2 separate regions of the Homo sapiens genome follow, and region 2 is linked to region 1. Evidence: fine-mapped QTL for protein levels in blood plasma. Region 1 holds a variant in brackets. A gene starts in the other region. All regions are shown on their reverse strands. Region 1 has its middle 6.0 kb from the start of CTRB2. Region 2 holds the start of PLA2G1B (phospholipase A2 group IB).

What was found. A credible set is the group of variants that fine-mapping cannot tell apart. PIP is the posterior inclusion probability: the model's chance that the variant is causal. Protein levels are from antibody-based Olink assays in UK Biobank. Linkage for the fine-mapping came from a reference panel and not from the study's own genotypes, which makes the PIPs less certain.
Region 2: it holds the start of PLA2G1B, and the variant in region 1 is the best candidate, but not a certain one, in a credible set for the plasma level of the PLA2G1B protein (UK Biobank, PIP 0.87).

What each region holds. Positions count from the first base shown.
Region 1 is chr16:75,198,426-75,203,799 of GRCh38, reverse strand. No RefSeq gene overlaps it. Among named protein-coding and RNA genes, the nearest start is that of CTRB2, 6.0 kb to the left of the region's middle. RefSeq lists enhancers at 2,224-2,303, 4,155-4,449. The variant G/T (reference allele first, on the strand shown) is at 2,826.
Region 2 is chr12:120,325,107-120,330,480 of GRCh38, reverse strand. It overlaps PLA2G1B (phospholipase A2 group IB), which reads left to right and starts at 2,702. Exons shown (of 4, transcript NM_000928.3): 1 at 2,702-2,761; 2 at 4,461-4,620. The coding sequence starts at 2,728. RefSeq lists an enhancer at 4,746-4,805.

The sequences.
Region 1 (5,374 bases):
ACCCACACACTCCAGGTGCCTTTCTCTGCCTTTAGTCCCCCATGTCCAGTGCTCAGGAATGTGCATGCAAGCATCACCCCCTCCCCCGTCAGACCCCAGCCCCTCACACCTTCTGCATCCACTGCTGGGAGCTGGCGCCACTGTCCTCTCAGCTCCCACACTCTTCCCCGCCTCCCTCTCTGCATTTTCTGTGACCCTGCAGTTAGACTTTTTTTTTTTTTTTTTTTTTTTTTTTTGAGACAGAGTCTTGTTCTGCTGCCTAGGCTGGAGTGCAGTGACATCTTGGCTCACGGCAACCTCTGCCTCCTGGGTTCAAGCCATTCTTCTGCCTCAGCCTCTCAAGTAACTGGGATTATAGGCACTCACTACCACGCCCGGCTAATTGTTGTATTTTCAGTAGAGATGGGGTTTCACTATGTTGTTCAGACTGGTCTCAAATTCCTGACCTCAGGTGATCTGCCTGCCTCGGCCTCCGAAAGTGCTGGGATCATAGGCATGAGCCACCGCGCTCGGCCTCTGCAGTTAGATCTTGAGGCTTCCTCACGCTCAGCTTCCATCACTTCGGCCAGGCCATGGAGGGGGCCGGTTCCTTTCCCAGGATGTGTCCGGATTGGCGGTCTCTCTCTCTCTGGAAACTTTTAGTCTTTCCTTTAATGCAGTGAAAATTTTGTTGGAGAAAATTCTCCTGTTGTTCCACTGTCTGAAAAGATATTTATTCATTTTGATCTTGTAAAAGTTGCCTGTCACTCTGAAAAATAATTTTTGTTGAGACGTGCATGTGGGTATGTACATGGATATTTGGACTTGGAAGGTGTTTCAGTGTCTCCTGGCTTCTGTTGATTCGTGGAGAAGTCAGTGATTTACTGTTGCTTTTTAAAAAGGTTTAATGGATTTTCTTTGGATGCTTTTAAGATTTTACCTTTGATTTTCGTTGGTTTACCAAGATGCTTAGTTTCTTAGTTTCCTTGACTCAGCCTGCATGGGGTTCTTAGACAGTCTTTTTTAGAGTCTTGCTTTCTTGCCCAGGCAGGAGTGCAGAGGTTCGCTCTCAGCTCACTGTAACATCCATCTCTCAGGTTCAAGTGAGTCTCGTGTCTCGGCCTCCCAGGTAGCTTGGAGTACAGGCCTATGCTACCATGCCCGGCTAACTTATTTTATTATTTTTTTTTTGAGATGGAGTTTTGCTCTTGTTGCCCAGGCTGGAGTGCAATGGCGCTTTCTCGGCTCACTGCAACCTCCACCTCCTGGGTTCAAGAGATTCTCCTGCTTTAGCCTCTTCAGTAGCTGGCATTGTAGGCGTGAGCCCCCACACCCAGCTATTTTTTGTATTTTTAGTAGAGAGGAGGTTTCACCATGTTGGTCAGGTTGGTCTCAAACTCCTGACCTCAGGTGATCCACCCGCCTCGGCGTCCTCAAGTGCTGGGATTAGGCGTGAGCCACCGCGCCCAGCCTCTGAGTGCTTTTTATCATGAAGGGTGTTGGATCTTGTCAAAGGCCTTTTCTGCATCAATTTAAGTGATCACGTGATTTTCCCCTTTCATTCAATTAATGCATATTACGCTGATGGATTTTCTTGTTATTTCCTATAGCGCTTGGCATGCTGGGATAACTCCCACTTCATCATGGTGTATAATCCTTTTAATATGCTGTCGGGTTCAGTTTGCTAGTACTTTATTGAAGGTTTTTGCATCTATATTCATGAGAGATACTGGTTGGTAATTTTCTTCTGATGTTTTTATCTGGCTTTTGTATCAGGGTAATGCTGGCTTCCTAATCTGTATGTATCCATTTGTGATTTTTTAACATCACAAATTTAGATACTCAGCTCAGTAATTTTCAGTGTGTTCTTTTCTCATAAAAGTATTTCAGGAGGCAAGCTTTCCTCCAAACACTGCTTTCATTGTATTTTTTTTTTTTTTTTTTTTGAGATGGAGTCTTGCTCTTATGCTCAGACTAGAATGCAGTGGCATGATTTCTGCTCACTGCAACCTCTCCTGAGTTCAAGTGATTCTCCCTCCTCAGCCTCCCAAATAGCTGGGATTACAGGTGTCCACCACCATGCCTGGCTAATTTTTGTATTTTTAGTAAGAACAGGGTTTCACCATGTTGGCCAGGCTGGTCTCAAACTCCTGACCTCAACTGATCCACCTACCTCGGCTTCCTAAAGTGCTGAGATTACAGGTGTGAGCCACCACACCTGGCCTTTTTTATTGCAATTTGATACACACTTTATAGTTCTAAGTCTTTTTCATTTCCTCCCCTGTACAGTGCCTCGGCATGACCCACTTTATCCTGAGGGCACCTGCAGGCCAGGGGCAGGCACCCATTGCCCCAAAGCCCTGGAGCTGGGTCGGAAGCAGAGCAGAACCCTGGTGCTCACTTCCTGTTTTTTCCTTGCACAGCCGAGTTCACAGCCTTCTGCCTTGGGCCACAGCTCTAGCCTCCCCACGTAACCACAGGTTCCGATCTTTGCTTCTTCTCCCAGGTCTTCCTGTCTCTTGATGTTTCCCTCTAAAGATCCATCATGGGCTGGGAATGGTGGCTTACGCCTGTAATCCTAGCACTTTTGGGGGCCGAGGAGGGCAGATCATGAGGTCAGGAAATTGAGACCATCCTGGCCAACATGGTGAAACCCCATTGCTATTAAAATACAAAAATTAGCCAGGTGTGGTAGTGGGTGTCTGTAGTCCCAGCTACTCAGGAGGCTGAGGCAGGAGAATCGCTTGAACCCAGGAGGCAGAGGTTGCAGTGAGGCGAGATCTTGCCACTGCACTCCAGCCTGGTGACAGAGTGAGACTCCATCTAAAAAAAATCTATCATGGCTG[G/T]TCCTGGGGGGCAGCCAACATTCCACACTAACCCGGCATCTTGGCAGGAATGGAATGGGCTCCCTCCTGCATTTTCTACTTCACTGGCTTTCCTAATACCTTTCTCTGCCCGTGCACTGTCAGCCGTTCTGATGATGCGTCTAATAGGTTGGAATTAAGGTTATAGATGGAATTTAATTATAAGGACATGAAGAGAAATTAACTTGGAGAATGGATGTGTGAAGAGGGGAAAAGCAAAATGAGAGAGAGCTTGGGCACAGGAGTGGGATCCAAAGTCGACTATTAAAAATAGTATCAAGCCGGCCGGGCGCAGGGGCTCACACCTGTAATCCCAGCACTTTGGGAGGCAGAGGCAGGCGGATCATCTGAGGTCAGGAGTTCGAGTCCAGCCTGGCCAACATGGTGAAACCCCCATCTCTACCAAAAATACAAAAATTAGCCAGGCGTGGTGGCACATGCCTGTAATCCCAGCTACGCAGGAGGCAGAGGCACAAGAATTGCTTGAACCCAGGAGGCAAGAGGTTGCAATGAGCCAAGATGGTGCCACTGCACTCTTGCCTGGGCAACAGAGTGAGACTGTCTCAAAAAAAAAAAAAAAAGCAGAGGCGGGTGGATTGTTTGAGGCCAGGAGTTTGAGACTAGCCTGGGCAACATAGTGAGACTCCTTTAAAAAAAAGAAAAAGTAGCTGGGTGCAGCGGGTGGCACCTGTAATGTGCTGCTCAGGAGGCTGGGGCATGAGGATCACTTGAGCCCAGGAGTTCGAGGCTGCAGTGAGCTATGATCACACCACTGCACTGCAGCATGGGTGACAGAGCAAGACCCTGTCACCCTGTCTTTCTCTGTGTGTGTGTGTGTGTATTTTTTTTTCTTTTTTTGAGATGGAGTCTTACTCTGTTGCCCAGGCTGGAGTGCAGTGGTGCAATCTCAGCTCACTGCAACCTCTTCCTCCCAGGTTCAAGCAATTCTCCTGCCTCAGCCTCCTGAGTTGCTGGGATTACAGGTGCATGCCACCATGCCCAGCTAATTTTTGTATTTTTAGTGGAGACATGTATTTCACCATGTTGGTCAAGCTGGTCTCGAACTCCTGACCTCAGGCGATCCACCCACCTCGGCCTCCCAAAGTGCTGGGATTACAGGTGTGAGCCACCGCGCTGGGTGTCTCTATATATAATTAGAGCCACCGCGCCCAGTCTCTCTCTATATAATTAAGAGCCAGGTTTCTTAAGGAAACTCCCAGCTCAGTGAGGGAGAACTGCTCTTAAACACAGAGGAAATTACATGTATTTTATTATGTCAACAACCATCTACATACAAATAAATGTGAGGCGTAAGTAATATAAAAATGGAATAGCAAGCACAAACCTGGCTAAGGGACTTTTTCACTTGCTGGTGAAATCTGCGTCTGTCCCCCGCTCCACCCACCGGCCTCCCAAGAGTCTGAAAACCACCCGGTATAAGGCTGCCACCTGGTGGCCAATATGAAAACTGCATATAGCTATGCCTTACTGTTCCTAACCCAGCGTTGTTTCAAAGAAATACAAAAGAAATACAAGGCGAGCCAAATGGATGATTTTAAATTTTCTGGTAGCCCTACTGAAAAAGTAAAAAGAGGCCGGGCACGGTGGCTCACGCCTGTAATCCCAGCACCTTTGGGAGGCTGAGGCGGGCGGATCGCTTGAGCCCAGGAGTTCGAGACCAGTCTGGGCAACATAGTGAGACCCTCTTCTCTACAAAAAAAAAATGCAAAAATTAGCTGGGTGTGGTGGTGAGACCCTGTCTCTTAAAAAAAAAAAAAAAAAAAAGAGGGACTGGCGCGGTGGCTCACGCCTGTAATCCCAGCACTTTAGGGGGCCGAGACAGGCGGATCACGAGGTCAGGAGATGAGACCATCCTGGCTAACACGATGAAACCACGATGAAACCCCGTCTCTACTAAAAATACAAAACAATTAGCCGGGTGTGGTGGCGGGCACCTGTAGTCCCAGCTACTCAGGAGGCGGAGGCAGGAGAATAGCATGAACCCGGGAGGCGGAGCTTACAGTGAGCTGAGATCTCGCCACTGCACTCCAGCCTGGGCGACAGAGCAAGACTCCGTCTCAAAAAAAAAAAAAAAAGAAAAAAGAATTTTAATAATATATTTTATTTAACCCAATATATCTACATATTTCAACATGTAATCAGTATTTTAAAATTATTAATGATATATTTTACACTCTTACACTCTTTCAAACCTAGTGTGTAATTTGCACTTCCATCACATCTCCACCTGGATGCTACATTTTCATGAGAAATACTCGATCTGCATTTACATCTTGTAAAACTTACAGTTGAAAAGGTAGACTCACACCCAAATTGTCCCAAATATGCTTAAAAGCTTCCAATTATGTGTTATATTGACAAGTACAGTTAAGCAAAAGGCTGAGTTTAATCAGGGGTCGCACTTGATTTAATCTCAGCTTAAAAACAGATTCCTCCTCGGGCGGGGGTTCCCCCACCCTTGGTCTGAGTTAGACCACGTTAAACAGTGCACGCGCCTCTCCCCGCCCATC
Region 2 (5,374 bases), not on the chromosome of region 1:
CTGTGATCCCAATGCTTTGGGAGGCTTAGATGGGAGGATCACTTGAGGCCAGGAGTTCAAGACCAGCCTGGGCAACATAGGGAGACGCCGTGTCTCCAAAAATTTTTTTGAGACAGAGTCTCGCTGTGTCGCCCAGGCCGGAGTACAGTGGCGTGATCTCGGCTCACTGCAAACTCTGCCTCCTGGGTTCACGCCATTCTTCTGCCTCAGCCTCCCAAGTTGCTGAGATTACAGGCACCCGCCACCATGCCCAGCTTATTTTTTGTATCTTTAGTAGAGACAAGGTTTCACTGTGTTAGCCAGGATGGTCTCCATCACCTGACCTCGTGATCCGCCTGCCTCGGTCTCCCCAAGTGCTGGGATTACAGGTATGAGCCACCGTGCCTGGCCCAAAAAATTTTTTTAAATTAGCCAGGTGTGGTGACACATGTCTGTAGTCCCCACTAATCGGGAGGCTAAGGTGGGAGGATTGCTTGAGCCCAGGAGGTTGAGGCTGCAGTGAACTATGATCGTGTCACTGCACATCAGTCTGGGAAACAGAGCGACACTTTGTCTCAAAAAAAAAAAACAGATAAATAAATTAAATAACCAGGCCCTCCTTATCCCACAGGGTTGTTGTAGAGGTGACATAGGAACAGAAGAGCACCAAGTTAACCAATTATAAATCTATATAGAGAGAAGCAGATCAGAGGCCAGGCACAGTGGCTCATGCCTATAATCCCAGCATTTTGGGAGGCTGAGGAGTGGATCACCTGAGGTCAAGAGTTTGAGACCAGCCTGACCAACATGGTGAAACCTTGTCTCTACTAAAAATACAAAAATTATCCAGGCATGCTGGCAGGCGCCTGTAATTCCCAGCTACACGAGAGGCTGAGGCAGGAGAATCGCTTGAACCTGGGAGGCGGAGGTTGCAGTAAGCCGAGATCGTGCCATTGCACTCCAGCCTGGGCGACAAGAGCGAAACTCTGTCTCAAAAAAAAAAGAGAGAGAGAGAGAGAAGCAGATTAGCAGTTACCAGGGGCTGAGGGAGTGTGACTGCTAATGGGTACAGGGTTTCCTTCTGGAGTGATAAAAATGTTCTGGAACCCCATAGAGGTGATGGTTGCACAACACTGTGAAGGTACTAAATGCCCCCGAATTGTTTACTTAAACGTGGTTAATGTTATGTGAATTTCAGCTAAACAATGTTATGTAGATATTTGGCCGGGCGCGGTGGCTCACGCCTGTAATCCCAGCATTTTGGGAGGCCGAGGCAGGTGGATCACGAGGTCAGGAGATCGAGACCATCCTGGCTAATGCGGTGAAACCCCATCTCTACTAAAAATACAAAAAAAAAAATTAACCGGGCGTGGTGGTGGGTGCCTGTAGTCCCAGCTACTTGGGAGGCTGAGGCAGGAGAATGGCATGAACCTGGGAGGCAGAGCTTGCAGTGAGCCAAGATCGCGCCATTGCACTCCAGCCTAGGCAACAGAGCAAGACTCCGTCTCAAAAAATATATATAAATAAATAGATATGTGATGTGACAGGTTTTTTTTTGAGATGGAGTTTTGCTCTTGTTCCCTAGGCTGGAGTGCAATGGCGTGATCTCAGCTCACCGCAACCTCCGCCTCCAGGGTTCAAGCCATTCTCCTGCCTCGGCCTCCGGAGTAGCTGGGATTACAGGCATAAGCCACCATGCCTGGCTAATTTTGTGTTTTTAGTAGAGACAGGGTTATTCCATGTTGGTCAGGCTGGTCTCGAACTCTCCACCTCAGGTGATCTGCCAGCCTCAGCCTCCCAAAGTGCTGGGATTACAGGCATGAGCCACCGTGCCTGGCCTCTGATATGACAGTTCTAATGCCCTTTAGTATTCTATAATTCAGACTCAGGCCTTTGGAATCCAAAGCCCAGGTTTTTCTCACAAACCCACACTGCAGAGCGGAGTGGTGGAAAAAAATAAAACCTCTGCCTTGGAATCAGACAGATCTAAACTGGAGCCCTATTTTGTCATTTGCCAACTGTGTGACCTTGGGCAAGTTACCGCAACTCTCTGAACCTGTCTCTTTATCTGCAAGGTGCACGACTGATGGGACTATTCAACCAGACCCAGTGCACAGATTCAGGCACTTGATAAGACATTGAGGCTGCAGGCAGCGATCTTTTTTCTTTCTTTCTTTTTTTTTTTTTTTTTTTGAAATAGGGTCTCACTCTGCTGCAGAGGCTCAATCACTGTTCATTGCAGCCTTGACCTCCCTGGCTCAAGAGATCCTCCCATCTCAGCCTCCTGAGTTGCTGGGATCACAGGTGCAATCCACCACCACACCTGGTTAACATTTTTTTTTTTAGAGATGAGGTCTCTCTATGTTGCCCAGGCTGCACTTCCTTCTTGTCTCCCTTATCCCAGCGTCCGACTGAACTGACGGCTTTGCTTTCCCCAACCAGCCCGTGAAGCTGGGCTGAGTACAAAGTGGTGGGTATGAGGGTCAAGATTGTAAGATCTGAAAACTCCAGAAACCATCCCTTTGGTTAACAGTTGCTAAGGACAAATGCATAACATATTTTCCAGTGATCCCATGCTGGCAAATCGTCAGGGTCATTCCTGCAACAGACAGATTCAAGGCCAGCCCCAAACTCAGCCAAGAGCAAAGCAAACACTCCAGCCTTATCTGGGCAGGGTTGTGTGGAGACTGACTATAAGACTATACCTGAGACTGGTCATCTCAGTTCTTTTCTCACCTTGACTGCAAGATGAAACTCCTTGTGCTAGCTGTGCTGCTCACAGGTAGGCAAGTCTCCCCGGCTCCACCCGCCTTTCTCTCCCAAGTGAGCTAAGATCTCACTCCTCTGGAATGGGGGCCACAGGCCACAGCAAACAGGGATGGCCAGCCCCGCAGTCTCAATTCGAGGTTCCCAGTGGGGCTTAAGGGCTCCTCTATTGGGGTTCCCTCAAGGCTGGCACTTTTTCAACCTGCAAGTCTGAACTCAGATTGCCTGAGCTAAGAAAGCTTGCCTTTATTTTCTTTTTTCCAGACAGGGTCTTGCTCTATCACCCAGGCTGGAGTTCAGTGGCATGATCATAGCTCACCACAGCTTCCAACTCGTGGGCTCAAGTGATCCTCCCACCTTACTCAACTAAGTAGTTAGGCCAATCTCCCATTTATTTTATTTTATTTTAATTTTTATTTTTATTTTACTTTATTTTATTTTTGAGACGGGGCTCACTCTGTCGCCCAGGCTGGAGTGCGGTGGCGTGATCTCAGATCACTACAACCTCCATCTCCTGGGTTCAAATAATTCTCTTGCCTCAGCCTCTCAAGTAGCTGGGACTTGTAGCTCTCAAGTAGCTGGCACACACCACCATGCCCAGCTAATTTTTTGTGTGTTTTTTTTGGTAGAGACAGGTTTTCACCATGTTGGCCAGGCTGGGTGACCTCCCTTTTAGATTCTCCTCATCCTGCTCTATTCTTCCCCTTTCTAATGCAGTATCCAGTTTCCTTACTTATCACATTTATTATTATTCTTATTATTATTGAGACAGAGTCTTGCTTTGTCGCCAAGGCTGGAGTACAGTGGTGCGATCTCGGCTCACTGCAAGCTCCACCTGCTGGGTTCACGCCATTCTCCCGCCTCAGCCTCCCCAGTAGCTGGGACTAAAGGCGCCTGCCACCACGCCCCGCTAATTTTTTTGTATTTTTAATAAAGACGGGGTTTCATCGTGTTAGCCAGGATGGTCTCGATCTCATGACCTTGTGATCCGCCTGCCTCGGCCTCCCAAAGTGCTGGGATTACAGGCATGAGCCACCGTGCCCGGCCTTATCACATTTATTATTTATTGTTTTTCTCTCCCACTAGGTTGTAAGCTCCATGAGGTTAGAGATTATTATTATTATTATTATTATTATTATTATTATTATTATTATTATATCTGTTCACTGCTGTATCTCTAGCTCCTAGGACAGAGCCTGGCACATAGTAAGTGCTCAATAAATATTCACTGGATAAACAGTGCAGATAGTTTAAAACTATCTGACCTAGGGAGGCTGAGGCAGGAGAATGGCGTGAACCCGGGAAGCAGAGTTTGCAGTGAGCTGAAATCGTGTCACTGCACTCCAACCTGGGCAACAGAGCAAGACTCCATCTCAAAAAAAAAAAAAAAACTATCAGGCCTAGCTGGGTGGCACATGCCTGTAATCCTAGCTGAGGCGGTAGGGTCCCAGAAGAAGAAGAAGAAGAAAAAGAAGAAGATATATATATATATACACACACACAAAGATATAAACTTTATATATATAAAGTTTTCATTAAAAAAAAAAAAAAACCTCTACCCACTTTCACTTTACCAGGTTCCTGGGTCCAACGGTCTTCAGAGGAGGCAGCTGGCAGGGGTCAGGGAGGCAGCGTGGGACCCGAGGGAGCAGGAAGGCAGTGTGTCCCCGGGGTGCTGGCAGACCGATTTGAACTCTGGCTATGTCTTCTTGCAGTGGCCGCCGCCGACAGCGGCATCAGCCCTCGGGCCGTGTGGCAGTTCCGCAAAATGATCAAGTGCGTGATCCCGGGGAGTGACCCCTTCTTGGAATACAACAACTACGGCTGCTACTGTGGCTTGGGGGGCTCAGGCACCCCCGTGGATGAACTGGACAAGTAAGTGATCCGCCTGCAGGAAAATTGGAGTGCCTGCCGGGGGCGGGGTGGGGCACACGCCAAGGATCTCACGAGGCATACAAAGGGGACTTGCATATCTGCTAAGGATAACATATTTTCACCTCTTGTCAAATAAACAAATATGTTCCAAGAGGACCCTGTAGCGAACGCACCCCGTTAGAGATGGAAACAATGACCGACGTGCAAAACAGTGGGCGATGCTGCCCTCCAGTGGCAGAATGTAGCAACAGTAAACATCACAGCAACTATCCACGTGTCATTTTCTAGCAGTGGTTGTCACTGCACCTTCTGAATACAGGATTTTACTGTATTCTTGCAACCATGTTAAAAATCGCTTTCAGGCCAGGCGCGGTGGCTCATGCCTGTAATCCCAGCACTTTGGGAGGCCGAGGCGGGCGGATCACTTGAGGTCAGGAGTTCGAGACCAGCCTGGCCAACATGGTGAAACCCTGTCTCTACTAAAAAATACAAAAATTAGCCGGACATGGTGGCGAGCGCCTGTAACCCCAGCTACTTGGGAGACTGAGTTGGAGGTTTCAGTGAGCCAAGGTCGTGTCACTGCTGTCCAGCCTGGGTAACAGAGCAACTCTGTCTCAAAAAAAAAAAATGCTTTCAATAAATATATGATAAAAGGACTTATATTTTTTCAAGCCATAGGATCATTTCTCCTGAAGCATCTTGGCGAAGTCATCCCCACCTGTTCCTGAGAGTGGGCAGGTGAGGGCTGACCTAT